Linked DNA regions of Homo sapiens: region 2 is linked to region 1. The links come from fine-mapping of genetic effects on gene expression. A gene starts in region 1. The other region holds a variant in brackets. All regions are shown on one strand. Distances are between the middles of the regions. Region 1 holds the start of SDCBP2-AS1 (SDCBP2 antisense RNA 1). Region 2 overlaps FKBP1A-SDCBP2 (FKBP1A-SDCBP2 readthrough (NMD candidate)).

The links. PIP is the estimated chance that this variant, and not a neighbour inherited with it, causes the effect.
Region 2: its variant is fine-mapped to the expression of SDCBP2-AS1 in whole blood (INTERVAL, PIP above 0.99).

The regions. Positions count from the first base shown.
Region 1 is chr20:1,319,706-1,334,872 of GRCh38, reverse strand. SDCBP2-AS1 (SDCBP2 antisense RNA 1) reads right to left here and starts at 9,530. Exons shown (of 3, transcript NR_040049.1): 1 at 9,344-9,530. SDCBP2 (syndecan binding protein 2) reads left to right here and starts at 5,734. Exons shown (of 9, transcript NM_080489.5): 1 at 5,734-5,788; 2 at 14,438-14,510. The coding sequence starts at 14,457. It overlaps FKBP1A-SDCBP2 (FKBP1A-SDCBP2 readthrough (NMD candidate)), which reads left to right. Exons shown (of 10, transcript NR_037661.1): 3 at 14,438-14,510. It overlaps LOC124904856 (a long non-coding RNA gene), which reads right to left and starts at 14,438. Exons shown (of 2, transcript XR_007067487.1): 1 at 13,673-14,438; 2 at 10,504-11,007. RefSeq lists enhancers at 8,954-9,248, 9,239-9,468.
Region 2 is chr20:1,352,660-1,367,819 of GRCh38, reverse strand. All of the region lies in intron 2 of FKBP1A-SDCBP2 (FKBP1A-SDCBP2 readthrough (NMD candidate)), which reads left to right. All of the region lies in intron 1 of SDCBP2-AS1 (SDCBP2 antisense RNA 1), which reads right to left. Among named protein-coding and RNA genes, the nearest start is that of SDCBP2, 31 kb to the right of the region's middle. The variant G/C (reference allele first, on the strand shown) is at 5,983.

The DNA.
Region 1 (15,167 bases):
GGGTCACTATACTGGTCCAGCCTCTGTCCATCATGCTACCTTCCTTCTCTTGCCCCCTTTTTGCACCCCCATCTTGTGCATTGCCACAGGAACCCCCAAGTCTGTTTGAATGGGGGAAGGCATCAGGGGCCAGAGTGCCCCCACCTCCGTCAACTCCCCCAAAACTGTCCCAAATAAAGTCACCCCAAAGAAATCTTAGGAATATATTGTGCTTTTGTAAGCACACAGTCTTACAATATGCCCCCGCCAAACTGACTGCCTCCCCAAAGCCCCTCTTTGCCAAGCTCCTGCTCTCAAATTTGACCACCCAAATCCAGCATAGGGCTCAGCTGGGCAGAGTCTTCTGCTGAAAAGTCCACCTTCCGTAGAAGGCTGCTGGGAGTAGACAGAAGTTTCCCCACTGTTACTCATCCATTTCATCTTCATCAAAATTCTGCAGGTTAGGGAATACTGCCCCAATTTTGCAGAAGTGGAAACTAACGCTCCTGCCTGGGACTGTGTCTTAGTCCATTCAGGGTGTTGTAACAGCATACCTTAAACTGGGTAATTTTTTAACAGGAATTTACTGCTTATAATTCTGGAGGCTGGGAAGTCCAAGATCAAGGTGCTCTCTGCTTCAAAGATTACATTTTCTTACTGCATCGTCACGTAAAGGGGCAAACAAGTTCCCTCAGACCTCTTGTATAAGAGTCCTAATCTCTGCCCTAATGACGTAATCACCTTCCAAAAGTCCCCACCTCTTAGTACTATCACATTGGAGATTCAGTTTCAACATAGGAATTCTACCTACAGTGGCAGGTTGCGCTGTCCAGCCTCGGCCCCAGACTCCAGAATGTCAGACGTCTTTCCATCTCTTCAGCCCCTCACTCCCCATGTAGGTCCCAGCAGGGCTCGGTGCAGCCTCCCAGGCCACATCTGCTACCCCTGCCCTGACACAGATGATCAGAGCTGGCTGGCAGACACTCTGGAACAGAGGCCTGAGGTTGTTATTAATGTCATCCTCCTATATTTCCTACTCTTTGCCTTCCAGGCATGTGGTGGGATGGCAGCTCCCTGTTCCCTTGTGATTGGGAGGTGGGGTAACCTGGCCAACAAGGTGTGAGAAGTGACATCTGTCATTTGGGCTGGAGCACTTAATTGCCAGATAGAGATCTCTTTCCCTCTGCCGTGGCTTCTGACGGCCTTTGAGATGGCAGCTGCTCCATCACCCCCAGTCCTGGAGTAAGGAGACATGGGGACCCTGCCAGCCCTTGACGGGTAGTAGCGTGCATGAGAATGACACTTCCTATTAGGAGCCACCAAGATTTCAGGGTTGTTTGTTGCTGCAGCATAACCTGGCCTACCTTAACTCACACACATCTCCAAAAAGCAAAACCAAGATGGAGCTCAGAAATAGCATGAAGGACATTGTGTTTGGAGACCAAATGCTCATAGTGGACATCTTTGGTGTTCACGCCACAGGAGGGACTGGAAGTGGCAATAGAGTTGGCCCTTTGTGGGGCCTTAGTACCGTTAGGGCAAACCTCAGAGAAAATCCATCCAAACTCTTCCCTGGCCAAATACGGAGACTGAGGTCCAGAAAGGGCAGGGCTTCACAGCATGCTATAGTAGAGGCTGGCACAGAACCTGCTAACAATAGACTGCCTCCATTTCCCAGTCTCCCATGCAGCTCTATGTGGCCATGTGATCAAATTTTTGCCACCTAAGGACTTCTTTGTGGGTTTCTTAAAGAGAAATCTGTGACTCAGCTGCACTAGGGTAGGAGACTCCTAGAGGTTCAGAGCCAAGGCCTGGCCTTACCACTCTTGGGGTGTGTTGCCTTGGGCAAAGTGCTTCACTCTGAAGCTGGGAATTATGGTGAACAGATGAGATCAGTGTATGCCCAGTGCCCAGCAGAGCACCCAGTGTGCAGGAGCTCAATAAATGCTACGCTTCCTGTTATTATTTCAATTCAGCAGTAGGAACAAAGCTGTGATGACATAAGCCAGGGTCTTGCTGCACTACCCAGATTCCATGCAGAGGGCTGGAGTGTAGAGCAGCTCCTTCTCTGCCCAGCCGACATTCTCTCTTCTTCTGGGAAGAGCATCTCTATTTTCACTCCAATCAGATGACTGTTTCTGTGACATGTAGCCATGAGAAAGTAGGAAACTAACATTTACTAAATGCCAGCTGTGTCCTAGGTACTTCACATGGTTACCTCATTTAGTCTTCAGGATAAGTCTATAAAGAAGGTAGGTGTGGAAACTACAGCTCAGAGAGGTTTAGTAACATGTGCAACATCACAGAGCTGGGACTCAGATCGGATGCCCCAGCCCAACCCATCTTTTAAATAAGGGTCAGCCATTTAAGTTTCTAACTGTGATTGACTTTTCTAGGAGGGGCATTTATTCACTCAGTCAATATTTACTGAGGCCAGGTGTGGTGGCTCACGCCTGTAATCTCAGTACTTTGGGAGGCCAAGGTGGATACATCCCTTGAGCCCAGGAGTTCAAAACCAGCCTAGGCAACATGGCAAAACCCCATCTCTACAGAAAATACAAAAATTAACCAGCTGTGGTGGCATACGCCTGTGGTCCCAGCTATTCAGGAGGCTGAGGCAGGAGGATTGTGGGAGGCTGAGGCAGGAGGATCTTGGGAGGCTGAGGCAGGAGGATCGTAGGAGGCTGAGACAGGAGGATCACTTGAGCCTGGCAGACAGAGCAAGACCATATCTCAAAAAAAAAAAAAAAATTTACTGTGAGCCTGCTATGTGCCAGGCATAGTACTAGGCCTCAGGGTTAAGACAAGCCCCTGCCATCATGGAGCACCCATTCCAGATGGCATGGAGACTTCACCTCATGAGCCAACTCTAGGTGACGGTAGCTGCCTGCAGCATTATGACGAGAGGATCCGGAGAGGCCTCTGGGCCCAGCAGGAAGGACATTAGTGGTTGATTACTCAGGGTGCCATGGGTGCTACCAGGGAGTTTCTGAGTGTGTGCTGTTTACTGGCCACCCAAAGTTTTAGACTTGTTCATACAAATATATAACAAAGCAGAAATATTGTCTGGTCAGAGCACAGTTCCACTCCTTATTTTGAAAAGAGTAACTGGCTGGGTGTGGGGTCTCACACCTGTAATCCCAGCACTTTGGGAGGCTCAGGCAGGCAGACTGCTTGAGCCCAGGAGTTTGAGACCAGTCTGGGCAACATGGCAAAACCCTGTCTCTACAGAAAATAAAAAAATTAGCCAGGTGTGGCAGTGTGAACCTGTCGTCCCAGCTAATAGGGAGGCTGAGGTGGAAGAATCCTTTGAGCCTGGGAGGTGGAGGCTGCAGTGAACCATGATTGCACCACAGCACTATGGCCTGGGTGACAGAGCGAAATGCTGTCTCAAAAGAATGACCACTGTAGAGCTAATAACTTGGCCCTGCCCTCAGGGAACTTAGGGTCTAACTAGTAGCCTAAAAGGTACACATGAGTACAAGATGATGATTATTAAAGAATGGAACAGGAGCGTCTGATCCAGAGTCAGAGGCGGGAGAGGCCACATGGATGTGGGGGATCCCAGAGGCTTCCTGGAGGAGCTCAGTGGTGGATGTGGCTAGGTGGGTGGGGGCAGGAGAAGGTGTTCCAGGGGCAGCAGCAGGACAGGCAAAGGTATGGAGTCAGGGCAGGTAGGAAGTGGGTGTGCAGTGGGGCAGGAATGGTGGGGCTCCCAGTCCAGCTGAGGCAGAGGTGCTGGGGGAGTGCTGAGGAGGTAATAAAGGGAGTGGGCTGTGGAGGTCTCCATGTCAGCCCTGGGAGTTTAGCCCAGACCCTGAAGCAGGAGGGAGCCACTGAAGAGTTCGAGCAAGGGCATGCCCAATGAAAGATATTTCCAGGTGGCTGGAAGTCAGTGATGGGTGGCAACTATCCAAAGAGGGAATAGAAAGAGAGTCCCTGTAGGTATTAAATAGGTGGGAGTTAGGGGACCTGGGCTCCATGCTGACATGCTGGGACCACAGGCAAGCCCCTTACCTGGAAGGGCCTGCTTCCTCCTCCCTCTTCTATAAAGGCCCTTTCAGGTCATGACTGAATGAAGTGAGGTGGGGGAGGAGTGGCTTGGTTTAGTTAGGATCTCTATTTTCCACTTTGCTTTGGCCTTGGACACCTGACCTAAGGTGGGTCCATCACCCACGTTACCTCAGCTTCAGGCCCACACAGCTTACTCTGAGGTTGCCCCACACCTCAGCTTTCTGAAACAGTATGTCCCATAGAAGAGAAGACATGAACTTGGCCCACTTTCCAGCTAACTTGAGAGAGAAACTTTGCCTCTGTGCCTCAGTGTCCCCACCTGGAGGAATGGTGTGAGTCACACCTACTCTGCAGGGATGGCATGAGAAGCCATTGAGATAATGCCTTTAAAGTGCCAGGGGTAGAATCTCTGTGCTCTCTGGGAGTAAGTGCTGAATTAGTGGCAAATGTCTTTCTTGTTATTATTCCTATTGTGTGTTTCCTGTGTGGGACTCTGGGCTGTAAGCTCTTCATTGGCAGGCACAAGATCTGACACCCAAGGCTAGTGCAACTCTGCCAGGTGGGTCATGGGAACTGTGACGTAGGCCTGCCTGGCCCAGGAAGCAGCCCAGATACTGACACACCCTGAGTGTGTACAGCGTCAATCCTCATGGGACTGCCCAGCACACGAGTCCCTCGTCCCTCCCCAGGCACCCAGTGCGACAGGCACCCTCACCCAACCAAACCCACCAGGATCTAAACTAAATTCTTCCTCCTTTTCTGTTCAAATTTATATAATTATTTTTGGAATAAGTAGTACATTTAAACTTTTCAAAATTTAAGACACCAAAAATGTGCCATAAAAAAAAAAATCTCCACCTCAGCACACAGCTCCTTAGGTCTGCTCCCAAGAGACAACCACTCTAAATTCCCATTAAAATAATCAAACTTAATTGCTTCCCCCTTACAAAAGTCATGAGCATTCAGAGCAAAAGCTAACTTAAAAAAAAAAAAACCACCTTGGAACACACAAAAGTACAAACTGAAAACCTCACCCTCAATGCTGCCATTCAGAGATACTCAGCATTTTAGCGTATGTCCTCCTAGACTGCTTTCAACGCACATCCACTTTACAAAAAATGAAAACAAAATGCAAGAAGAGATTCACAATATTGATTTTTCAACATCTCACTAGAATCTCAGAAATGTTTCCTCATACCTTCTTCCTTAAGTGACTTTAATAGCTCTGTGATCTTCCACAGACAATGATTTATTCAAGCAGACCACAGAGATGGGCATTTGGGATTTCTACATTTTCCTTACTAGAAGCAGCAGTGATGGATGGGCCCTGTGACTCCACTGTAACAAATTCCTAGAAGAAATGCTGGGTCACAGGATATGACCACTTTTTAATATCCTGGCCTAGACCCCTAGATACCTATCACAAACCGCCCTCTAGCCAACTGCCTCGATCAGCAGGACTAGGTGTCCAACCCAAATTTAGAGCTATTTAAGAAAAGGCCAAGAAGTCTTGGTTCATAACCGTCTGAACAGCAGCTGTGAGGGCCTTAATCCCACCTCCAAATCCAGACTAAGGCCAAAGGCCTCCTCTGGGCTGGCAACCTGCCTTGTTTACCCAGCCACAGCCCTCACCTGTGCCCATCCCAGTCCAAGGTGAGTCAGCTGAACAGGGGACAGGCACCACCCTTCCCAGATCAGGAAGCCAGCTGAGAGACAGGGCTACGTTTCAGGGAGGGAAACAGATTCAGCAGCGGCAGCAGCTGGAGAAGGTCGTGGAGCAGCACCTTGCCTGCAGGTAAGCGCTGGGGGCCCTGACCCAATCCTGGCTGGGATTGGGATGAGTGAGACCTGCTCTCACCCTGTCCCCTTCCCTCCCTGCCCCTTCCCTTCTGGGACTTCCCAGGCAGCTTCCTTTCGAAGTGCTTCACTCCAAGCAGTCAAGTGTGAAGTGGGGTTTCTTCTTCTGATCCCAGCCCTGGACCAAGTTTGATTAAGGGCTGAGTGATTTTCTTCACCCAGACATCATGAGGGCCCCCGATGCCTTCTGACTGCCCATGACTGTGCTCAAGGAGATGAGATCCACACTTTGCTCCTTGAAAGGCCAATTCCAGCCGAAACCAGAGGCTGCAGGCAGGCAAAAAGCCCATTTCTCCCAAGGAATCCACAGCTCAGGCCGACTTCTCTGGCCTGAGGCTGTTTCTATCAAAAAACCTTCCTGCCACAGCACTGAAACACCTGCTGGGGAACTGCGCCAGGGGCTTCACCTTTCTAAGAACTGGTTTCTTCATCTGGAGACTGAAAATAGCCCACAAAGTCAGGAGAATGGAAGGACATACTGGACACAGGAGCCAGTGCATGCCCTCCTCAGCAGGGTCTCAGAAAATGGGGCAGAAAACGAGCCTGGTATGGGCTGGGCGAGCACTGGACAGGCAGCTTCACGTACAGTGGCCCAAGCTCATGACAATTCCACCACCATCACTTCCCACCTGGGCTCCTGCTCCCACTCCTGCCCTGTAGCCCATCCTCCAAACATCAGCCAGAGGAGGCCTGTCAAAATAACCCTTGGACCTTGGCACTCTGCTGCTACAAATCCCCCAGTGGCTCCCATCTCACTACAGTAAATGCCAAAGTCCTCACCATGACCTCCAGGCCCTCCAGGATCTGGCCCCTCTCACTTCTCCAGCTTCCTCCCCACTACTCCTCCTTACTCCCTCTCTGCACAACTGGCTTCTCACTGGCAGATGTCCTCTAAACACAACACCAACTCCCACCTGAGAGGCTCTGCAATGGCCGTGCCCACCCCATTAGGCCTTTCCTCAAATGTCACCCCACCCAGCCAGCAAGGCTTCTGAACCTCCTGACATGACCCTCCGTCCTGCTCTTTCTCTCCAGTGCCTCCCACCATCTAACACAGCACACAGAGTCACAAAGCCTATTTATCCAGCTCTTCCCCCAAAGAAAGTACATTTGGGGACCAAGTCTTCTTTCCTTCACTGCTGATACCTAGAACAGTACTCAGACTTAGCAGGTGCTGAGTAAGTAAGCGCTGAAACAATGAATAAACAGCTAACTTTTACTGAATGCCTATTATGTGCTAGGTGCTGTGCTAAATGCTTTCCATATACACCTTAACTCTTTTTAAAAATCTTTCAGTCTCCAGACAACTGTGATGCAACTATTGTTATCCAGATTACAAAGGAAGAAATGACATTCAAAGGGGATTTGCCTATGCTGTGCTCTCACAAGTCAGAAGCAGTCAGTCTGAACCCTGCCCTGCCTGGGCCTGGGTTCAGGCGTGTCTGCTTGAGGAAGTCACAGCTTTTCCCCAGCAGGCAGTGCAGCACTGAGAGGAGGAGTGGGGGTACATGCTGGTGGCCTAGCAACAGCTTCTTCTATTCCGACTCACCACATCCCTGGGCTAATTTGGCCTTCCAGGAGCTATTCCTCTGACACTCTAACCCACGCTTCCCTCCCGCGCACTGTCTTGTAAAGGACGGATGAGCTGTCCACAGGAACGAGTGGGAGTTCCATCACTTCAGCTCTTTGGAACAAAGTGTTCCAAAGAGTGTTCTCACTCTAAGTTCAAAGATGGGGGCTGAAGTCCCCTTGTCAGCCCTGCTGATCTCCGAAGCCCAGCTATTGGTTTGTTGTGGGTGTTGTTATTGCTTATATCAAAAAGTACAGAAGCTCAGGGATGGAAATCTGGAAAGGGCTGTGGGAGAGGAAAATTCCTCTGAGAGAGAGGGGTTAGGTGGGTTCTTTTCCTTTCGGAGGAACCAATTACTTGTGGGAAGCCATCAGCACAGAACTGAGCAAACTTCCACTGTCAGATTATAGGAGCCAGGCAGCCTTTCAACCTAACTCGTTAGGGCCATGGTTTCTCTCCTTTTCCAGGCCCAGGTTATTCTTCGAAAGACTTTCTACTTATTGACTGCAAACACAGACAGGCATGGGAAGAAAGACTGTATATTTAGGATATCAGGCTTTCTCTTCTCTCTGTGCCTGCTTTTCCACTCCTTTCAGAAATAGTAATGGGATGCCTGTTGTGTGCCAGGCACTGTGCTCAGCACTGGGGGTTAACAAATGAGTGACATTTCCTGACCAGTGAGGGAGATGAGCAAACAAACACAGCACAGTGGAAATCCAACCTAGGAAATGCAGAAGGCCTTGCTCATAGTAGGTGATTAACAAACACTTGTGGAATATATGATGAAGAGGCAAATACAAGAAATGCTGTCGTCTAGAGAAGGGAGGCTTGCCAATCTCCATGCGTACAGGTGGGGGAAAGCTTTAAATTGGAGGAAAAAGAGTTCACAACAAGGAAAAGAGAGAAGGCATGAATGACTCTTAAGACAGAGGGAATAGCACCTGCAAAAGCATGGAGGCATGAACTAGCAGGCTGACTTTTAGGACTCAACCTAAAGTAGTCTGGAATAAATGAACTTCATGATAAGTGTGGAGAAGAATGAGATGGTGAGAATGGAAACATTACCAGAAGTCAGGTCACAGAGATTTGAGGGCAAGAAGTAGGTATGGCTTCAGAAGGGAAAGGGAGGAGCTGAGGATAACTCCCAGATTTCTGACATAGCCCATGGGTGGATTCAGTGAGACCGCTGGGGAGGCGCGGCACAGCTGGGGAAAATCACGAGTCCAGTTTGGATAATCTGCGAGGTAAACGGGATCCAGAAGGCAACTGGACTCTCAGGCCTGGGCCTCCCTGTCCCTGGAATAGCACACTCTCTTCCCACTTGAACATCCATCCTACACGGCCCAGTCAGGGTCTTCTTCCTTCCTCCAGGAGACCTTCCTGATTGCCCTAGCCTTCCTCCTATACGCCACATCCAACTGCCTGAGTCCCTCATAACAGGCTTTCGGTCTGATTTTGCTGTGGGAATTGATTTGCCCGGCCAAGCCAAGAACCCTTCCCTAGGCAGCAGAAGCCCAGTCACTCAGTCACTGGTGGGTGGGACGCGGGGTGAATCTGCGTAGGGTGGGGCGGGGCATTTTTAGCTCAACACTGGGTCAGAAGTCACGGCCAGACAAGAAACGGGTGAGAAACGGGGGAGGAAGGGTGACGTCACAATTGGTAGGAAATACCTTGGGACTTGACGCTTTCGAAACCAAAGGGAGAGCAAAAGCAGCCGGGAGCGCGCGGGCCGACCTGGTTCTCCTCCCTTCCCACGGCTGCCTTAGTACAGAATCTTATAAGTCCTCCTCCTTCAGAGGCTACAAATGGTGTTCCGAGGCCAGGGGAGTTTAAAGCTCGATTTCACCCGCGCAGCCTCCAATCCGGTAAAGAGGGGCCGCGGAGCCCGACCAAGTCTTCCTATGCCTTACTCTGCTGCTTTACCTGATCTATTTTTGTGGATGCCGGCGCCAGCTACGGGCGCCCGGAGAAAGCACGAGGCCGGGTGGACTCTGGTAACGCAAGCGGCAAGGAGGCCGCCATGTTCCACTCTGCAGCCGCTAGGGATCGTGGGAGTCACCCCTAACCGCGCCCGGGCCTGGGTGGGCGAAACGCATGCGCTCTAGAAGTTGCTGAGTCGCTTGGCGGTGTTTCTGCGCAGGCGCCGTAGCCCATAGCAACCGCCGTAACCTGTAGCAACCGGAAGATGTCGCTTCCGGCTGGTTTGGGGCTAAGAAAGGGGTTATAGTCATTTCGAGATCATAGAACGATGTGACAGATAGGAAACTGAGGCTGGGTTGGAGGCAGGCCCTAGGGACCGTTGCGTTGGACCTCGCTCCTGTGGCGCGGTGGATGGAGTTTGTGGCTTGTGGCTCCTATTTCCCAAAGCAGGAAATTGAGACAGAGGGAAGGCACAGGTTCGTCCTGAGGCTGCAGCCCAGGTGATGGTTCCCCGGGTAAAAAATCAATATGATGCCCTTTGTTTATAAGGAGAAGGCAGGGACATGAAAGTAATTTCTAATAAAAGAATATGCATTTCACTTTGTAAAAGCTGAGGCTGGCTTACACCCGATCACGCTTGTACCCAACTTAGGAATCAGCTTAGGTTTACTAGAAGACAATATTCAGCTGAATTTTGCCAACAGTTTATATCTGACATCTTGAGTCAAAGGCTAAATATATTTATATAAAAGCGCGGAGTCACTGTGACAGCTACACATGTACACAGACGTGAGCATGCTGTTCGGGTGACTCACCCGTGGGGAGCAGGGTGGGCAGCGATTTTCCAGAATGGTGAGCAAAGTGTAACTCCCCACAACCAACCTGATATATGCATTTCCAGACAGTCTAGTGTGTACTAAAACTAGGGAAAAATTCATTGTGATTGTATGTACAACCAATTATAACGGATTTTTGGCTTACTTGAAAGTTTGGCAGGATATCTGAAAGTTGTGCGGGACAGGACCATTTGTTATGGTGACTGTAATGGACTGTCCCATCCATTACAGGAGTTTCATATCCCTGCCCCCCCCACCCCCGACAGGGATATGACTGTCCCCTCAGTCTCGTGACACCCAAAAATGCCCACATAAATTTCCAATCTGTTCCTTGGAAAACCACTGATTTATTCAGTCAAATAATTTTTGCTAGCATATGTGTGCTGGGCAGTGCCGTGGCGGGGAAGGATCGTGTGTGAACGGGACAGAGCTCCTGCCCTTATGAGTGAGGTCCAGTGTAAGAAAATACCCAGATATTAATCACATAATTTGATAAATAGCTTGGCAACAGGGGCAGTACAGGTCAGGGGTGGAATACATGGGAAGACCCAGCCAGGCAGCCTGGGTATCATGCAGTCTGGAAAAGCCAAGCAGAGAAGTAGCATCTGAACTGAGCCTCGAAGGAGCATCACACCAAGGAGGATGATGTGCACAGCAGAGGGACCAGCACGTCTGGCACACAGTGGACACTCAAATGTTTTGAATGATTGAACGAAACACAGCATGTTCGCTGGCAGGGAACCATTCCCCATTATATTGTGAGCTGCTACAAGGCAGGGGATACAGTATGCCTTTCCTATCCCCAGGTTTCACATCCATGGATCCAACCAACTGTAGACAGAAAATATTTAAAAATAAAAATTAAAAAAAACAACAAAAATTCAAATAAAAATAAAATATAACTTTGTTTAGCATTTACATTGCATTAGGTATTGTAAGTAATCTAGAGATGATTTAAAGTATACAGAAGAATGTGCATAAGTTATATGCAAATATTATGCCACTTTATGTAAGGGACATAAGCAGCTGTGGATGTTGGTATCCGAGGGATGGGGAGTGAGGGGCATTGTCCTGGAACCTACCCCAAGGAACGACTGTACCTGTTTTCTCACTTCCCCGCATCCCAGCACTAAGATGGGATCCAGAGAAGGTGGCAGTGGTGAAAGGATCTCAGACACAGAAAAAGGGTTATGTGATCTGGCCCGGGAGTGATTTCCAGGAAATGGATCTCTGACTCCCTGCTCTCCCAGGGGACAGCTGACAAAAATATAAGTGCTCTACTGGTTAAATGTTAGGAAAATCAGGGCAGGAGTGGCTGCTTATTTTCGCATCTGCTGTTCATGCGTGGTCCTGGTGGCAGGTCATGTTTTGGCAGATGATAGCTGCTCAGGACTGTCCCAAGATTAAAAATCTCATAGTGTGTGTACACAGTGGGGAAGGCTATAAGCAAAGGGGTCTCTTCCCCCAGGTGGTCTAAAGGAAGTCAGAGCCAGACTCCCTCCCCTCCCAGGAAATTCCTGTCCTGTTGGGATGGTCATTTCTACCCCAAAGGCCAGGCTAGGGCAGGGTCTGGAACTGGCTGCCTCCAGGAACCAAGCAGGCAACGTAAATCAGTGAAGGGCTGATGGGTACTTGCGGAAACAGGAAAGCACGTACAGCCCCATTTGCGAGGTAGGCTGTGACTCAGCCGGGTGAGTGTTGCCATGCACTATTCCAGCTCTTGCCTTGCCAAATGTTTATATTTTTTTCAATCCAAGTAAGAAGTGACGCATTTTGTGTTTCCAGATTTTTAAATATTGGCACTAATTCAGATTTTAAAAACAAAAGGCTGGGCATAGTGGCTCAGGCCTGTAATCCCAACACTTTGGGGGACCGAAGCGGGCAAATTGCTTGAGCCCAGGAGTTCAAGACCAGCCTGGGCAACATGCTGAAACCCTGTCTCTACAAAAAATACAAAAATTAACCAGGTGTGGCGGCATGCACCTATGTCCCAGCTACTTGGGAAGCTGAGGTGGGAGGATGGCTTCAGCCCAGGAGTTGGAGATTGCAGTGAGCCAAGATCGCGCCACTGTACTCCAGCTTTGGCAACAGAGTGAGACTCTGTCTCAAAATAATAATAATAATAAAACAGGACTGTGAGAGGCACATTTGGGACTTCTGGTCCTTGTTTCATCCAGGAAGGTGGGTGTTCTTAGGATACTAGAGCTTTACTTTACAAGGAGAAAAGTGGAAGCCCAGGTAGAATGTGTTGCTTCTGGCAATATTATTGAGCTAGCCTCCATGCTAGGGGTTAGAGGCTTCACAGCAAATGAGAAGCCCCTGTTCCTGCCATCTTGGAACTCCTAAGGAGGTAGACAGACAAGTAAAGAGGCAACCACAAGAGTGGTGAATACTCAACAGGAGTAGGACATGGAGCAGGGGCTAGGGGGAGCACAAATCAAAGCAGGCTTCCTGTAAGAGGAGCTCCCTGATCTGAGACTTGAAAATTATTAGGAGTTGGCCAAGCAAGGAGCAGGGAGAGGAGGGGTATTCCAGATAGAAGGAATAACACATGCAAAAGAGACAGGAGGGAATCACATGCAAGGACGTGGAAGTAGCTCATTGTGGCTGGAGTTGAAAGTAGCAGCTGAAAGGACGTAAGGCAAGAAATGAAGCTGGAGAGGTAGACTAGGGTTGCAAACAAATATCTATTGGGACTTGGCACCAGTGAGTACAATGGTCTGGGTGTAACAGCCAATAGAGGATGGTGGACTGGGTCACCCTGGAGTCTGCTGCTACTCAATTGTAGCTACTCTGCTATAGCCTAGGGTTGCCAAAGCTTCCTGTTTTTTGGGAGCAGTGGGAAATTCGATTATTAAATCCAGTACCTTGAGCTTTGTGTTTAAGCTGCTAATCTGAACGTTTACAGTACTCCACAAGGTCAAATAAAATCTATTTCCATCTGGCCCTGGGCCCACCAGTTCCAATCTCTGGTGGAATCGTGAAGGCCCTGTGAGCCTCTTTAAGGAGAGTACATTCCCAAGGCAGGGAAGCCACTGGCGGGCTTTCAGCCAGGGCATGACATCCCAAGTGTGTACACAAAGGGCCTGGTGGCTGCTGTCTGGAGAGCAGCAGGACGGCAGGAGGGGAGGCAGCAGTGTGTTTGGAGGGTGTTATGGCACCTGGAGAGGGCCAGGGAGATGATGGGGACCTGCACAACACGGGATGTGGGAGAGATGGGATTTGATGACAGACAAGAAGGGATAGTGGGGGCGGGGCCAAGGATGACACAGGGGTCAAGGCAGCAGGTGCAGAGGGAGGAGAAGGAGCAGTGATGGATGAGTATGTCCTCGGCGTGCCTGTGGTCACTCAGGGAGGTGCCCAGCGGATCTGATCCTGGGAAGCCTGGAGTCACATCGCTCAGGCACAGGACCCTCAGTTTCCTGTGCCACCAGCGGGCATTCCTTTATCATGTGTACCCATCACATGTGAGTTCAGTGGGGTGAATAGGACACACCTTTACCCCTCAGAACTGCAGTCAGGACAAGTGGCGAGTTCAAGCAAGAGGCTGGCCCGGTGCTGTCCCGGAGCTGTCCCGGAGGGCAGGGTCCTGGGTGGGAGGGGCAGTGACCGTATTGCCTGGGAGCCAGGGGAGGCGTGTCCCACAGGAACCGAGGGTGACAAGGAGGTTGGGCAGGGGCTCCAGTTGGAGTGGACTGCCTCAGCGAAGCCTGGAGGTGTGACAGAGCCAGTGGTTAGTGAGTAAAGGGAAGGAACCCAGAAAGGCAGACTGCTCCTTCCCCACATTTCGTCAGGAAGGGAATAAAACATTTCTTAAGAGGTCATCATTCCTTTCACTTTCTCGGGGCACCTTGCTCAGAGGTCCTGCTGATTCTCCCTGGGACAATGAGAAGGTGTTTAGTAAATAAGTGCTCATGGTGCCTCTCCACCCCCCATTCCCTCCTCCCTCTGGAGCAGTGCCCTGTTGAGTGTCTAAGTTCTGCTACAGTTTGTGTGAGAGTCTTTATAAATTTCCTACTGGTCTTACTTCATTGTGGCCAAGATTAAAAGTTGACAGTGAGGCTGGAGATGAGTGGAATACAGTAGAGTTCAAATATCGACAGGGGATTAGGGGTGGAGTTCGGGGAGGCATTCTAAGTGCCCTGCTGCCTTTCTGTTTGAATATTAAGTTCCAACCCGCTTGCTGTTGCGGATGTCTGTGCCTCCTTTCAAGGGGGCATCAGCTGCATCCTTATCCTTCCCCACCCTCTGCACTCTGCAGGGTGTTCTGAGAATCAGCCATGTCATCCCTGTACCCATCTCTAGAGGACCTAAAAGTGGACCAAGCCATTCAGGTAAGTCGCCAGGCCCCATTGGCCTGGATTCCCTGAAGGGGACCTTGGGGATTACCCTGGAAGGTGCTGGGTACTGGGGCCACTTGGAGATTCCCGTAGGCCTCAGGGCATGTAGGTGTCCACTGCAGGGCCTGCTGGGCAGAGAAGACATCCAGGGGGCAATGCCAATGGCGTTACAGCAAGAATAGAAAAGACCAAGCAGCGCACGCATGCCTCTCTCATGCCTGCTCTGTCCTGCCCAGGCCCAGCTCTCCCTCCCTCCAGGATGGGCGGGCTCCATGCTCTAAGGCAGGCTTTCAGAGGAAACAAGACTAGTGGGCATAGGCATTGGTCTGCTTAGCCCCCAGAAGCCCCCTTCCTCCTCCATCCCAGCACTCTGTGGTTCCAGTGGGTTTTGAGAAATGGAGACTTTTCAGCTGAGAACTTGATTGGGAGATGGGCCTTGATGTTCTGCCTGTTGCAGGCAGTAAATGGGTTGTGACATAGGGTGGGTCACAGTCCCCCAGAACTTCCTCCCAGGAAAAGACACATCTGCGGAGGCCACGTTTACGTGATCTTGAGCCCTGAGGGTTGGTGCACACTCCCCCCACACCCCGGGCCCACTCACACCCCTAATGCCCAGACCCTGGCCTCATGGAGCTCCAGGCTCTGGGGTTC
Region 2 (15,160 bases), 33 kb before region 1:
ATTGTGCCTTCACTCAGGCATATGGGAAGCTGTTCTCACTGAACTTGGCATTTCAGGGAAATCCTCTGGATTGGGGATGGGAGTCCTCAGAGATGTCCACATCCTAATCCCCAGGACCTGTGAATGTGTCACCTTACATGGCAAAAGGGACTCTGCAGATGTGGTTAGGTAAGGACCCTGAGATAGGAGGATTATCTGTATTTACCTGGGCGGATGCAGTGTAAGCACATGGATCCATATAAGCATCAGTGAAGGCGACGTGAGGGTGGACAGACTTTTGAGGATGCTAAGCTATTGGCTTTGAAGATGGAGGAAGGAGAGCAACAAGCCAAGGAATGCTGGCAGCCTCTAGACGCTGGAAAGGGCAAGGAAACGGATTTTCCCCTAGGACTCCTGAAAGGAACACAGCCCCACCCATACCTTAATTTTAGCCCTGTGATGCCCACTTTGGACTTCTGACCTCCAGAACTGCAGAATTTATTACTAAGGTGATAAGTTAGTGTTGCTTTAAACCATTTGTTAACAGCAACAATAGGAAACTAATACAGGGCCAACTTTTTTTTTTTTTCCCGAGATGGAGTCTCACTCTGTATCCCAGGCTGGAGTGCGGTAGCGTGATCTCGGCTTACTGCAACCTCCGCCTCCCAGGTTCAAGTGATTCTCCTGCCTCAGCCTCCCTGGTAGCTGGGACTACAGGCACGTGCCACCACGCCTGGCTAATTTTTTGTATTTTAAGTAGAGATGAGGTTTCACCGTGTTAGCAGGATGGTCTCGATCTCCTGACCTCGTGATCCGCCTGCCTTGGCCTCCCAAAGTGCTGGGATTACAGGCGTGAGCCACCATGCCCGCCAATATTATTTTTAATGTATAACAGAATAATGTCAGGGTTTTGTTTTTTTTTTTTAATCCAGGATCCTACCACCCTAACAAACAAATCCAACTTCAATTTTTTTTCTCCTTCCTATTTCTTGCCCTAAGCACTTACAACGTTTAGCTTTAATCACAACGTAGTACAAATTTTGCATTTCTGCTTTTTTCCCCACTTGCCATTTTTATCAGGAGTATTTGTCCCTGTTGCCATATGGTTTTTATAACTGTTTTAAGAGGGCTGCTAAGTAAATTATACCACATGAACATTAAATTTACTTAACTACCTTGTTAAAGGATAATTTTTTTAGAAGTTAAAATTATGACTCATACAAATATAAAAGTAACATGTTAAAGATGATTGTATTTAACTTGTTAATTATTGAGAGAACCAGTAGGACACTTTAATTGGCTCAAAGGAGAATCCAAAGAACAAATAATTATAAGCCTAGCAGGAATGCTGAAATGAGTTTGCTTCGTAGTTACAAAACTGGCAAAATTGGCTGATACCTGCAGAACAATAATCAGTTATATTCCATTGGTCACAATTTGCATTTCTATGAACAAGAATCATCTGCATTATCAGTTTCCCTTAATTTACGTAATTGTAAAGTAGCTCAAAGGCAGTGAAATGAAAGGGAATCAACTCAGAAAGGTGGGCTAGATTAGACAGAACACTCAGTAATTGGAGGCAGGGGTGGGGGCAGTGGGCAAGACCTATTTCAAAGTCCTTCACAGTGTTTCCTGATAGCCTGTATTTGGATAGCTGGGTTATGTCCAGTTATTTGCTTTTATTAAATGTCAATACATCTTTGAACATTTTTTTCTTTCCTAAATACCTAGGTTCTATAAGATATAATACTGTTAATAGTAGGGGATCCCTAGGGTCAAAGGAGATTTTGACTTTTGATTAGTGTTGCCAAGTTGACCAGAGTTGTATAAGCCTTTTCCCATGCCAAAAACAAAAACACCATCCATGTCCAATGGCTATCACTTCCATAGTGTCCTAAAAAAAATCTTTAAAAACCTTCCTTTCTCCAGTGGTCCTCTGCTATGTCGTGAATGTGTCTCCCAAAGTTCCATGTGTTGGAAACTTGATCCCCAGTGCAGTGGGTGTGGGGAGGTAGGACCTAATGGGAAATGGTTGGGTCATGGGGGCTCTGCTCTCATGAGTGGATTAATGCTGTTATTATGGGAGTGGGTTCCTCATAAAAAAATGAGTTCAGCCACCTATTGGCCTCCAGCCCTCTCTCTCTTTCTGCCCTTCCACCCTCCACCATGGGGTGGACAGCAAGAAGCTCCTCACCAGATGCCAACACCTTGATTTTGGGACTCCCCAGCCTCCAGAACTCCATGAGATAAATTTCTCTTCATTATAATTTACCCCATGTATTGGTATTTTTATTATAGCAGCAAAAAGTAGACTAAGACACCTTTCCACCTTCTCATTTCTTCTCATATTCATTGGCCAGAATTAAATCTGTGGAGAATTTGACCTGGATCAATCAAGACCCATCACCCCAGGGCTGGAGAAGGGCTCAGACTCCCCTAAAGCTCTGAGCCCTAGAGCCCCTGAACAGATTCCGTTAATAAACAAGAAGCAGGGGGACCAGTGGACCCAGCTAGAAGCGGTTTATGTGGCTACTTACTGTATTTTCTTTTTTTAAATTTCCTTTTTTGTTTTACTTTTGAAATGCATGATGGTTATACTACAGTCCTAGGATTCAGGAAAACTTCTAATTCCACATCTAACCTTTGCTAAGGGTTAGATGCCAAACTACCTTTTGTTTGAGTTTTTCCATCCATTAAATGAACTTGGGATGAGAGTGGGAATGTGGGTGGTCAGAGTGACCAGATGAACTTTAAGATACCTTGCATCTCTAAAATTTTAATTATTTGAAAGTTAATGATCCATGTGAAAAACTTAACTTAGCTGTGGCAACCACATAACACCACCACCACCACCCCACCCTACCCTCTGTTTGAAATGCTTGTTCTTCAGTGCCGCAAAGAAATAGCACTTGAACATTAATTTCTTCAGCAAGGTCATTTTTATACTTTCTGCAGAAAGGGTACACTCGCCAGCAGTTTTGCCACGAGAGAACACCGAACAAAGGAGACAGGGTCATTTATAACTTGACAAGTCCACTTTACTGCTGTGTCCAGTTTCCATTGGCTGGAACGGGACCTCACATTCTGTATTTGTCCTGATTGGCTAGCAACTTAGAACTTTTTAAAAGAGGCAAAGGCAGAGGAGAATGAAGGAGGAAGTAACTTGTGGAATGCTGAGAAACGTAAAAACACCTTCAGATAAGGAAGAGGAACAGGCTATGACCTAATGCTTGCTTGGACCAGTATAAGCATTGCCAGGGCAAATAGGCTAAATTGTGGGAGCTAAGAACATAAAGTACATTGATTTCTTTATTACGGCTAGCAGATATTTAAGAATGTTAGCACAGGTCTTTGAATAAGTTTTGCTCCTAAGAGAAGTTACTATTTATTCTTAATTAGACAGGGAGGAAAGTCTTTGAAGAGGAACCTCACTTTACTTTTTACACCCCTAAGAACCATGATGATAGACTGCAAAAAAGCATCCCATCAACCATCACTTTTTCCAGGAAATGGCTGGCCACAGAAAACTCTCCGCCCCTTTCCTCTTTTGAAATGGTCCCAGACTGCTCACCTGCCTCCTTGAAGCTAATCAAGTCAAATGTACTTGAAGACCACTTTGTCTCTTGGCTTGCTTCCACAAATCCTACCCTTATATGACATTTGCCAAGTCAACACTGTCAGTATTTCTCCTTTTTACTCTATAACGTCTTAACACCTCTGAACACTTACCAAAACAAAGGTTTCAGCAGAAGGGTTCCCCTGCTGCACGTTTATGAATAAATAGCCTTTGTCGATTTTATCTTGGACTTAGTTTTGTCTCTGACACATGTGGAATGGATGTCTGTTAGAATTCTGCCCTTGCCACACCTCTTGCTTCCTGGATAAATGTGGGTTCACTTGGGTTGATGACCTTGGGCTACACTGGCTTCTTCAGAACCCCTGAGAAGCGTGTAGGGATTCTCATTCAGACCTCTAGAATTGAGTGAATCAGTGAAGGGCAGCTGACACCAAAAATGCATTAAAATGTCAAGGCCGGCAGCCCTCTAGCTTCTGGCTGGAGTGTGTGATGATTTCGTCTGAATTCCCTGAGTTCAAGGCATGCAGTGGGCACATCGACTATGGGCCCATCAGAGGCTGAGTTTGCAGCAGCAGCTGTCCTGTACAGCATGCAGCAAAACGGCTGTCAGCTCTTATTAGGAAGGTAGAAACATGCCAGTGGGTATGTATGCAGGACTAGTGTATCCTTGGATGTGCCTGTTACTGACCACTGTGGTTCTGTTTAACATTAATTTGTATATTTCTCAAAGCATCACATGCCCAAGATTTAGGCAAGTAAATTCAGTTAACCACAGAGTATACTTTTATGCCTTTCCTGTGATAACACCATTCTAGATGCTAAGAGTGAATGTAGGATAGGACAGAAAAGTGCTGCTGGCAAGGACCTTACATTCATGCCAGTGAAGGAGACCCAAAACAGATGGGCAAATAATGCCAGCCGTCTGGAAGCAATGGAGTGAAGTGGCCAAGTGAAGTCCTGGAGGAAAATTGTTCTAGGCTAAGTCCCTGAAGGGTGGTGAGTTTGGGGTGCTGGGGAAACAGCAGTATGACCTTTAGAGACAGAGCAAAGGTGTGAGGGACAGAGTTAGGCAGGGGCCAGGTGAGGCAGGCTATTACAATGTAAGTCTAGTGAGCAGTGGATTCCAGCAGGAGAATTATGTCTATTTGTTTTGGGGAGAGTGTTTTGAGACAAGGTCTGATCTGTCACCCAGGTTGGAGTGCAGTGGTGTAATCACAGCTCACGGCAACCTCAACCTCCCAGGCTCAAGCGATCCTCCCACCTTAGCCTCCCGAGTAGCACATGCCACTGTGTCGAGCCGTTTGTTTTTTTAAAATCCTCTGGAAACTGGGAAATTGACTGAAAGGTAGTATTCCTCCAAGCCCTTGAATCTAGGCTGGCCTTGTGACTACTTTGATCATTACAAGGCAGTGGGAAAGGATGTTCTGGGACTTCAAGCCCAGGCCTCAATAGGACTGCCAGCTTCTACTTCCTTCTCAGAACACTAGCTCTGAGCCCAAGCTACATGGAGAGGCCATCGTCCTAGCTGAGAACCTAGCCAGCTGCCACCATGTGAATGAACCACGGTGAACACTCAGCCCATTCAAGCCCACAAATGCCCACAGCTCCAGCCACATCACATGAATAGAGGAACCACCCCACTCAGCCCAGGAAAACCAGAGTTGTGAGACTGAATCACTTGGTTTTGAAGTTTATTTCACAGCAATAGATAAGTGAAACAAGGGCAAGAGTGGTGGATGGATGCAGGACACAAGCCAGCTTTGGGGTTCATTTAGGCCAGAAAGGATGGAGGCCTGGAGCAGACTGGCGGAAGTGAAGATAGTGAATCGTCAGATTCAGGACGCACTTGATGGGTGCAGCTTTCAAGCTGGATGAGAAGGGAAAGAAGTAGAATAGAAAAGCAGCAAGTCTCTGCCTGGCTTTCTCCAGACGACTCCTTAGAGCTTTAGACCCCCCGCTCTCTTTGATAACTACCACCATCCTGCACGAACCAGTTGCTTATACTGGCTTATATTGTGATCGTGTTTTGTTTTTTGTTTTTTGTTTTTTTTTTTGCTCTTTAAGTAAAAAATAAGGTTAAATCTTTGAGAAGTCCTTCTTAAGCAACAAAACCTCAGAGACACAAAGGAAATTATTAATAGATGTAACCACTTAAAAATAAAAAATGAAACTTCTCTATCATAAAAACATGCCATAAACAAAGCTAAAAGATGATGAGCTATAATGGAGAGAAAATATTTGCAAAATATAACAAAAAATCTCATACACTAACTATATAAGCAATTCTAAAGAAAAAGGTAGCCAAATAGAGACTAGCATTAAGCTGCTCTAGGAATTTCACATTATATTACCATATCTTGACGTATGAGTTTTAGACGTGTCATGTGGCCCCTCGGCCTCCAGTAGATATGCCCAGGCTTCTCACA[G/C]CATGGTGGTCTCAAGGTTCCAAGAAGGTGAGGAGAAACTTCAAGGCCTCTTAAAGCTTCAGCTGCAGAACTCACATAATGTCACTTCTTCCATGTATTGGTCAAAACAAGTCACCAGGCCAGCCCAGGCCCAAGGGTAAAGAAATAGACTCCCTCTCTCACTAGGAGAAACAGCAAATTTCTCATTGCAAAGTGGTGCGGATACAGGGAGGTGTGGTTCACTGGGACCATTATTATAGCACTCCCACGCAATGGCTAAAAATGCCTTTCTTCTACCCTCATGATTGATAGCTTAGCTGGGAATATTATTTTGTATTGATAATTATTTTCTCTGAGGATGAAAGCATTGCTGCACTCTCTTGGAGCTTCCAGTGTTGTTGAGAAGGGTAATGTCATTTTGATTCCTGTTCCTTTATGTGTGATCTCATATTCCTTTCTGAAATCTTTCAGGATCTGATTTATCTATGGTATGATGAAATGTCGTAACACGGCCTTGTGTGAGTCTTCTTTTTTTCTTTTCTCCCCTCCTTTTCCTCCTGTTTTTTGTTTACTATGTTAAGCATTTGGAAGGTCATTTTAATCTGGATACACATGTCCTTCAGTTTGGAAGGTTTCTGATATTTCTTTGATAGGTATATTTTCCACAAACATATTTTCTCCCAAAACATATCAGAAGAGTGGTATTATTTTACATTTTTAAACATTTACGCTTGGCTTAATAGAATGAGTTCTCACATCTACTTCTGCATTCAATCTTGCAATATGTTGTTTTGGTTGAAATCTATGAAGAAATTACAACTAAGCACATTTTTAAGGACGCTTGTGTCTGAACAGATAGTAATACAGAAACCAACATAACGAGAAATACCTGGCATCTCTTTATCTGAGGACTTTGCTAAATGGGAAATATTTAGTCATCTTCTTGAAAAGAATTTATCCAAACTTGCATTGGTAGAAAACAAAACTGGCTTTGTTTCCCTGTATAAAAACCACTTAGCACTTCATTTGTATATTCAAATGTAGTTTGTGAAGAGAGCAATCAGAGAAATCATGTATCCAATTTGTAAATACAATTAACCAAGAGAATATACAGGTCAGATCGCCCTTCAACTGGTCTCACAATTGCCATCACAAACTGAGTCAGCTGGCCAAAGTGATGGGGAGACATTCTGAGAAATGTGTCATTAGGAGATTTCACCATTGTGTGAACATCATAGAGTATACTTACACAAATCTGTATAGTATAGCCTACCTACCACACACCTAGGCTATACGGTACAACCTGTAGCTCCTAGGCTACAAAACTATACAGCAGGTTTGTACAGTGACTGTTGAATACTACAGGCAATTGGAATACAGTGGTAAGGATTTGTGTATCTGAACAGATCTAAACATAGAAAAGGTCATGTGTCACTACATGACGTTATGCCAGTTGGCAATAGGAATTTTTGAGCTTCATTATGGTTTTATGGGACCACTGCTGTGTATGCAGCCCACCACTGATGAGAACATCATACGCAGTGCGTGACTGTACTTCGACCACCAGGGGTACAAGTGCATGGACTGGACAGAAGGAAAACCTCAGAGAACCTGAGGATGTGGATAAGACTGTTTAGTGAGGTTCTCAACTCATCACAAGCTACCAGGTATTCGGCATGGAGGGGTGGTGACAGTTATGCAGGACATTGACATATGATGATACAGTGGTCATTCTTACATAAAATGAAGAAGACTGTCCAGTAAATTCTATGAGTTTGCAGTAGATGGATCATCAAAGGATATGGGTAATCTTGTAGTAACAGGACTATGTTACTAGGAATTTCACTAGTCCTGTTACTAATTCATAGGCCATGGAGCAATATAAGACCAAGGTTACAAACCCCTAAAATTGTCTGGAAAGAGAATGACTTTTTTATGTACTTTGGTCTGAGCATGTGATTCATAAGTATATGACAGCAGATCAATTCAGATACATCCAGAAGAAGCCATCCTTTATTCTGAAATGTCCTAACCATACCTGAAATAAATACTAAGTGATGCACCAGAATTTTCCTCCCTGGGATCAATGAGCAGTAGCATTGAGAGCAGAAACGGCAGCCGTGGTAACAGGAGCTGCTGTGGTCAGTAGGCTCTCAGGGTCTGTCAGGCAAGAGCATAGGATAGTGACAATTCAAATGAAAGCAAAAACAAACATAAAAAGGAATGAACTACTGAAATGCCAACAATATGGATGAATCTCACAGATATTATAATAAGTAAAAGGAACCAGACTTTTTTTTTTTTTTGAGACGGAAGCTCACTCTGTCACCAGGCTGGAGCGCTGTGGCGCGATCTCGGCTCATTGCAACCTCCGACTCCCTGGTTCAAGCGATTCTCCTGCCTCAGCCTCCTGAGTAGCTGGGATTACAGGCATGTGCCACCATGCCCAGCTAATTTTTGTATTTTTAGTAGAGATGGAGTTTCACCATGTTGGCCAGGATGGTCTCGATCTCCTGACCTTGTGATCCACCCACCTTGGCCTCCAAAAGTGCTGGGATTACAGGCGTGAGCCACCGTGCCCGGCCCAGACTTTTACAAACATTACGTTCTATGTGATTTTCTTCATATGGAACTCTAGAAAAGACAAGTTCAACTTACACTGGCAGAAATCAGGCCAGGTCTGAGGCTCAGGATGGAGGAAACTGACTAGGAAGGAAGACAAAGGGAACCTTTTGGGGTAATGGGAGTGTTCTATATCTTGATTGTGGTTAGGGTTACATGGATATACACATTTGTCAATCTCATGGAAATGTATACTTTAAATGGGTACATTTTATTTCATGTAAATTACACCTCAAAAAGTTTATTTAAAAAATACATGGGGCTTCCATGTTCACACAAGATAAAGTAAGTGGACTCCACCCTATTCCTTCTGCTAATTACAACTAAAAACTAGACAAAATACATAAAGCAACTATCAGAAACCTCTAAAGGTGAAGTAAACTAGGCAGACTGGCAAGGAAACTTAAGTCTCAAGGGATGACCTGGCAGGGAGTTCCCAGAGGCTTTCGTAGTGTTCACGTATTTCAACCTGGGCACTAGAGGAAGGCACAATCTGAAATGACCAACAAGCACAGACAACAAAAGTCCTAAGGAAAATGCTTTCTCTAGTCAAAGGACCTAGAAGAGGACAGTAATGAAGGATGGCCTTTTTTTTTTTTTTTTTTTTTGAGATGGAGTCTTGCTCTGTCTCCCAGGCTGCAGTGCAATGGTGCGATCTCGGCTCACTGCAACCTCCGAGGATGACCCTTTTGACAATACTTGCTCTACTCCAGGTGAACACCATCAAAGAAACCACAGCCCTCCTCTCCCCAACAGGCTCTGCAGAGACTGGTGTGGAGTTCGGTGAACCATCCCTGCTGTGCACGAATGTGGGGGCAACACTCCCCTTCCTCACCAGTGATTCTGGAGACAAGTGGAGCTCTATTAATGAGCCCCATCCTGCACTAATGGGATAAGAGGTGACACCCCCTCCCTCCTCCTTCTTCCCATGGGATGCTATGGACACTCTAGGGTAGAGCCCTGTTGACTACCACCTGTCCTGCAGTAACAGAGGCAGCACCTACCCCCTCACAGAGAGTGTGGGCAGAATAACAGAGAGGAGGGAGCTGCGGAAAAAGCGTCTTTCAATTTGTGCACATCCCCAAGTGGCCTATGTGTGAAACTCATCAGAATTAACACAGCAAAAGCTTTAAGAACTGAGCTATGCTGTGGAATACCACTCGGGTTTCTGGGTATCCACTGGTCTCTGGGTAGCACACAGGCAGAGCAGACCAAGATAACGCTGAATTTGAAACCAAACTGACATTCAAACTCACAGACCACAGAAGTGAGTCATGATGTGCATTCTGAATTGAAGCAGGTTGAATGCATGCTAAAGTAGAAAATATAAAAAGGAATCAGAGTTTCATAATACCCAAAGTACTGATAATATTGAATATTACTTGTCATGTCAGAAAACAGAAAAAGTCAACCAGAATGAGAACAGGCAATCAACAGATGCCAATACCAAGATGGTACTGATGTTGGGATTGTCTGGCAAGGATTTTTAAAGCAGCTATCATTAAAAAACAAACAAAAACACTTTTAACAAGAAACTATGAACACTCAAAAAACAAAGGTTCAATAAATAAAAGATACAAAGAAACCCCAGCCGGGTGCGGTGGCTCATGCCTGTAATCCCAGCATTTTGGGAGCCCAAGGTGGGCGGATCACCTGAGGTCAGGAGTTTGAGACCAGCCTGACCAACATGGAGAAACCCCGTCTGTGCTAAAAATACAAAATTAGCTGGGCGTGGTGGCGTGCACCTGTAATCCCAGCTTCTTGGGAGGCTGAGGCAGGAGAATCGCTTAAACCCGGGAGGCGGAGGTTGTGGTGAGTCAAGATTGTGCCATTGCACTCCAGCCTGGACAACAAAGAGTGAAACTCCATCTTAAAAAAAGAAAAAAAAAGAAAAAGAAACCCCAAATGGAAGATTTATTTTATTTTAAATCATTTTTAAAAAAATAGAGACAGGGTCTCACTACATTGCCCAGGCTGCTCTCAAACTCTTGTGCTCAAGCAGTCTGCCTGCCTCAGCCTCCCAAAGCGCTGGGATTACAGGTGTGAGCCACTGTGCCCAGCCTATTTTATTTTTTATTTATTAACTTATTTCTTTTGAGACAGGGTTTGTCTCTGTCACCCAGGCTGGAGCGCTGTGGCGTGATCTCAGCTCACCTGCAAGCTCCACCTCTTGGGCTCAAGCGATCCTTCCACCTCAGCATCGTGAATAGCTGGGACTACAGGCACATGCCTTCATGCGCAGCTAATTTTTTGTATTTTTTATAGAGATGGAGTTTCGCCATGTTGCCCAGGCTGGTCTGAAACTCACGGACTAAAGTGATCTGCCCGCCTCAGCCTCCCAAAGTGCTGGGATTACAGGCATGAGCCACCACACCCAGCCCCAGATGGAAGTTTTAGAACTTAAAAATATATATATATACACAATAACAGAAACAAACTCATTGGATGGACACAATGGCAGAGTGGAGATGACAGAGGAAAGAAACATTGAACTTGAAGACAAACCAATAAAAGTTACACAGTCTGAACAGAGGAAAAAAAAGACAATAGATTTTTTAAAAATGAATAGGACTTTAAGGACCTATGGGAAAATACTCCAAGATCTAAATACTCTTTAGAGCTATTGAAGTTCCATAAGGACAAGAGAAAGAGTGCAGTGCTGAAAATATACTTAAAGAAATCATAGCTGAAAACTCCCCAAATTTGGTGGAAGGTGTAAATCTTCAGATTTAAGAAAATGAGCAAACCCCAAGCCAAGAGGACTCAACAACCCTAAAATAGTATGCACTGAACAACAAAGTTATAAAATAATGTGAAAACTGACAGAATTGAAAGAAGAAATAGATAAATCCACAATTACAGCGTGGACTTCAACATCCTTCTATCACTAACTGATAGAACCATTAGACAAAAAAAAAAAAATCATCAAAGATTAGAAGAAATTAACAACATGAGCAACAACATTTAAGTGACATTTCTAGAACATTCCATCCAACAGCAGCAGAATACACATTTTTTTTTCAAGTGCACATGGAACATTTACCAAGATAGACCATATCCTGGGACATAAAACAAACTTTAACAAATTTAAAATAATTGAAGTTATGTGAAGTATGTTTTCTGATCAGTTGTGATGGAATTAAACTGTATGCCTCTCACTCATTCTTAAAATGCAAGGCTGGTTTTATACTGAATTAATAATTAGTAACCTTCCAAAAAAAGAAAGTACAAGACCCAGATGGTTTCACTGGTTTCACTGGTGAAACCAAATGTTTAAGGAATAAATAGTATCAATTCTCTGCAATTTCTTCCAGAAAACGGAAGCAGAGGGAATACTTCTTAACTCATCCTATGAGGCCAGCACTACCCTAATACCGAAACGAGATTAAGATATTATAATAAAGGAAAATTAAAAACCAATCTCTCAGGAACACAGATGTACAACTCCTCAATAAAATACTAGCAAATCAGGAGGAGGTGGAGCAAGATGGCTGAAAAGAAGCCTCCAGCAATTGTCTACCCTGCAAGAACACCAAATTGCACAATGATCCACACAAAAAAGCACCTTCATAGGAGCCAAAAATCAGACAAGTGATTACAGTACTTGATATTAAAATCATATTAAAGAAAGAGGCACTGAGTGTGGTATGGAGAGAGAATATGTGCACTTCTGGAAGAGAGCACAGTGATTGTGGGACACTGCAATGGAACTCAGTGCCGCCCTCTCACAGTGGAAAGCAACGGGGCAGAACTTCGCGAGTGCCCATGTCCTAGCCAGGGGCAAATCATCCATCCCAGCAGTCAGAACGTGAGTTCTGGCAAACCCCGCCAAAGTGGGCTAAAGTGCTCTGGGGTCCTAAATAAATTTGGAAGGCCGTCTGGACCAGAAGGACTGCAATTCCTGGGCAAGTCCTGGTGCTATGCTGTGTTCGGAGCCAGTGTACTTGGGAGGCATGTGACCTAGTGAGACACCAGCTGGGGTGATCAAGGGAGTGCTTGTGTCATCTCTCCCCCAACTCCAGGCAGCACAGCTTACAGCTCCAGGAAAGACTCTTTCCCTCTGCTTGAGGAGAGGAGGAGAAGAGTAAACAGGGCTTTTTTTTTGGCAAATTGGATACTAGCTCAGCCACAGTAGAATAGGACACTAAGCAGAGGTCTGAGGCACTCGTTCCAGGCTCTAGCTTCTGGATGACATTTCTAAACTTACCAGAAAGGAACCTACTGCCAGAACAGAAGGACCCAGTTCTGGCAAAATTCATCACCTGCTGACTAAAGGGCCCTTTGGCCTTGAATAATCAGCAGTGTTAGCCAAGTAGTACTGGCCGCAGGCCTTGGGTGAGACTCAGAGCCACACTGGCTTCATGTGTGACCCAGTACATTCCCAGCTACGGTGGCCTCAGGGAGAGACCCCTTCTGCCTAAGGAAAGGAGAGGGAAGAGTAAAGGGGACTTTGTCTTGCAGCTTGGGTACCAGCTTGGCCACAGTTGGGTAGAGTACCGAGTACCAAGTGGGACTCTGGGGCCCCGATTCCAGGTCTTGGCTCCTGGATGGCATTTCTGGACCTGTACTGGGCCAGAGGTAAGCCCACTGCCCTGAAAGGAGAGAATCAGGACTACAAGCATTCACCATAAGCTGACTGAAGAGCCCTTGGGTCTTGAATGAACATAGGTGGTAGCCAGGCAGTACTCACCACGGGCCTAGGACAGTGGTGGCCATGGGGAGACTCCTCTGCCTGAGGAAAGGGGAGGGAATAGTGGAAAGGACTTTGTCTTGTGGCTTGGATGCAAGCTCAGCCGCAGTAGAATAGAGCATCAGGTAGACTCCTAAGGTTCCCAACTACAGGCCCTGCCTTCTGGACGACATCTATGGACCCACCTGGGGCCAATCTCAGACAGAGATTGATGAATATTTGGATAGATAATTCAAAATAGCCATTTTGAAGAAACTCAACAAAATCATGTTGATAACAGAGAAGAAATTCAGAATCCTATCAGATAAATTTAACAAAGAAGTTGAAATAATTAAACAGAACCAAGCAGAAACTCTGGAGCTGAAAAATGCAACTGACATACTGAAGAATGCATCAGAGTCTCCTAACAGCAGAATTTGTCAAGCAGAAGAAAGAATTAATGAGCTTGAAGACAGTGTATTTTAAAATACAGTCAGGAGACAAAAGAAAAAAGAATAAGAAAGAATGAAGCATGCTTACAAGATCTAGAAAATAGCCTCCAAAGGGCAAATCTAAGAGTTACTGGCCATAAAGAGGCAGTAGAGAGAGGGACTAGGGTAGAAAGTTTATTCAAAAGGATAATAACAGAGAACTTCTCAAACCTAGAGATATATCAATATTCAAATACAAGAAGGTTATATAGAACACCAAGCAGATTTAACCCAAATAAGACTACCTCAAGACATTTAATAATCAGACTCCCAAAAGTCAAAGATAAAAAAGGATCCTAAAAGCAGCCAAAGAAACAAATAACATACAAAGGAGCTCCAATACATCTGGTAACAGACTTCTTAGTGGAAACCTTACAGGCCAGGAGAGAAACTAGCATGACATACTTAAAGGGCTAAAGAAAAACTAACCTTTTTATACTGGAATTTATCCAGTGAAAATATCCTTCAAACATGAAGGAAAAATAACGACTTTCCCAGACAAACAAAACCTGAGGGATTTTATCAACACCAGATCTGTCCTACAAGAAATGCTAAAGGAATTTCTTCAATTAAAAAAACAAAAAGGATGTTATTGAGCAATAAGAAATCATCTGGGGGCTCACACCTTTAATCCCAGCCCTTTGGGAAGCCAAGGTTGGGGGATTGCTTGTGTCCAGGAGTTCAAGACCAGCCTGGGTAACATAATGAAACCCCATCTCTACAAAAAGTAAAAATTAGCTGGGCATGGTGGTATGTGCCTGAAGTCCCAACTATTTGAAAGTCTGGGATGAGAGGATTGCTTGAGCCTGGGAGGTTGAGGCTGCAGTGAGCCACACTCCATTGCAGTCCAGCGAGGGTGACAGTGAGTCCCTGTCTCAAAAAAAAAAAAAAAATCATCTGAAAGTATAAAATTCACAGATAATCATAAGTACACAGAAAGACACAGAATATAACACTGTAACTGTAGTGTGTAAACTACTGATCTCTTGAGTAGAAAGACTAAATGATGACCCTGTCAAAAATAATAACTACAACTTTTCAAGACATAGTATAATAAGATATAAATAGAAACAACAAAAAGTCAAAAGCAAGGGGATGAAGTTAAAGTGTAGAGTTTTTATTCATCTCTTTGCTTGTTAGTTTGCTTATGCAATCATTGTTAAGTTGTCATCAGTTTAAAATAATGGGTTACAAGATATTATTTGCAAGCCTTATGGTGGCCTCAAATAAAAAAACATACAATGGATACACAAAAGTAATAGCAAGAAATTAAAACATACCACCTGAGAAGTCACCTTCATTAAAAGGAAGATGGAAAGGAAGGAAAGAAGGAAAAGAAGACTACAAAACAACCAGAAAACAAATAACAAAATGGCAAGAGTAAGTGCTTATCAATAATAACATTGAAGACAAATGG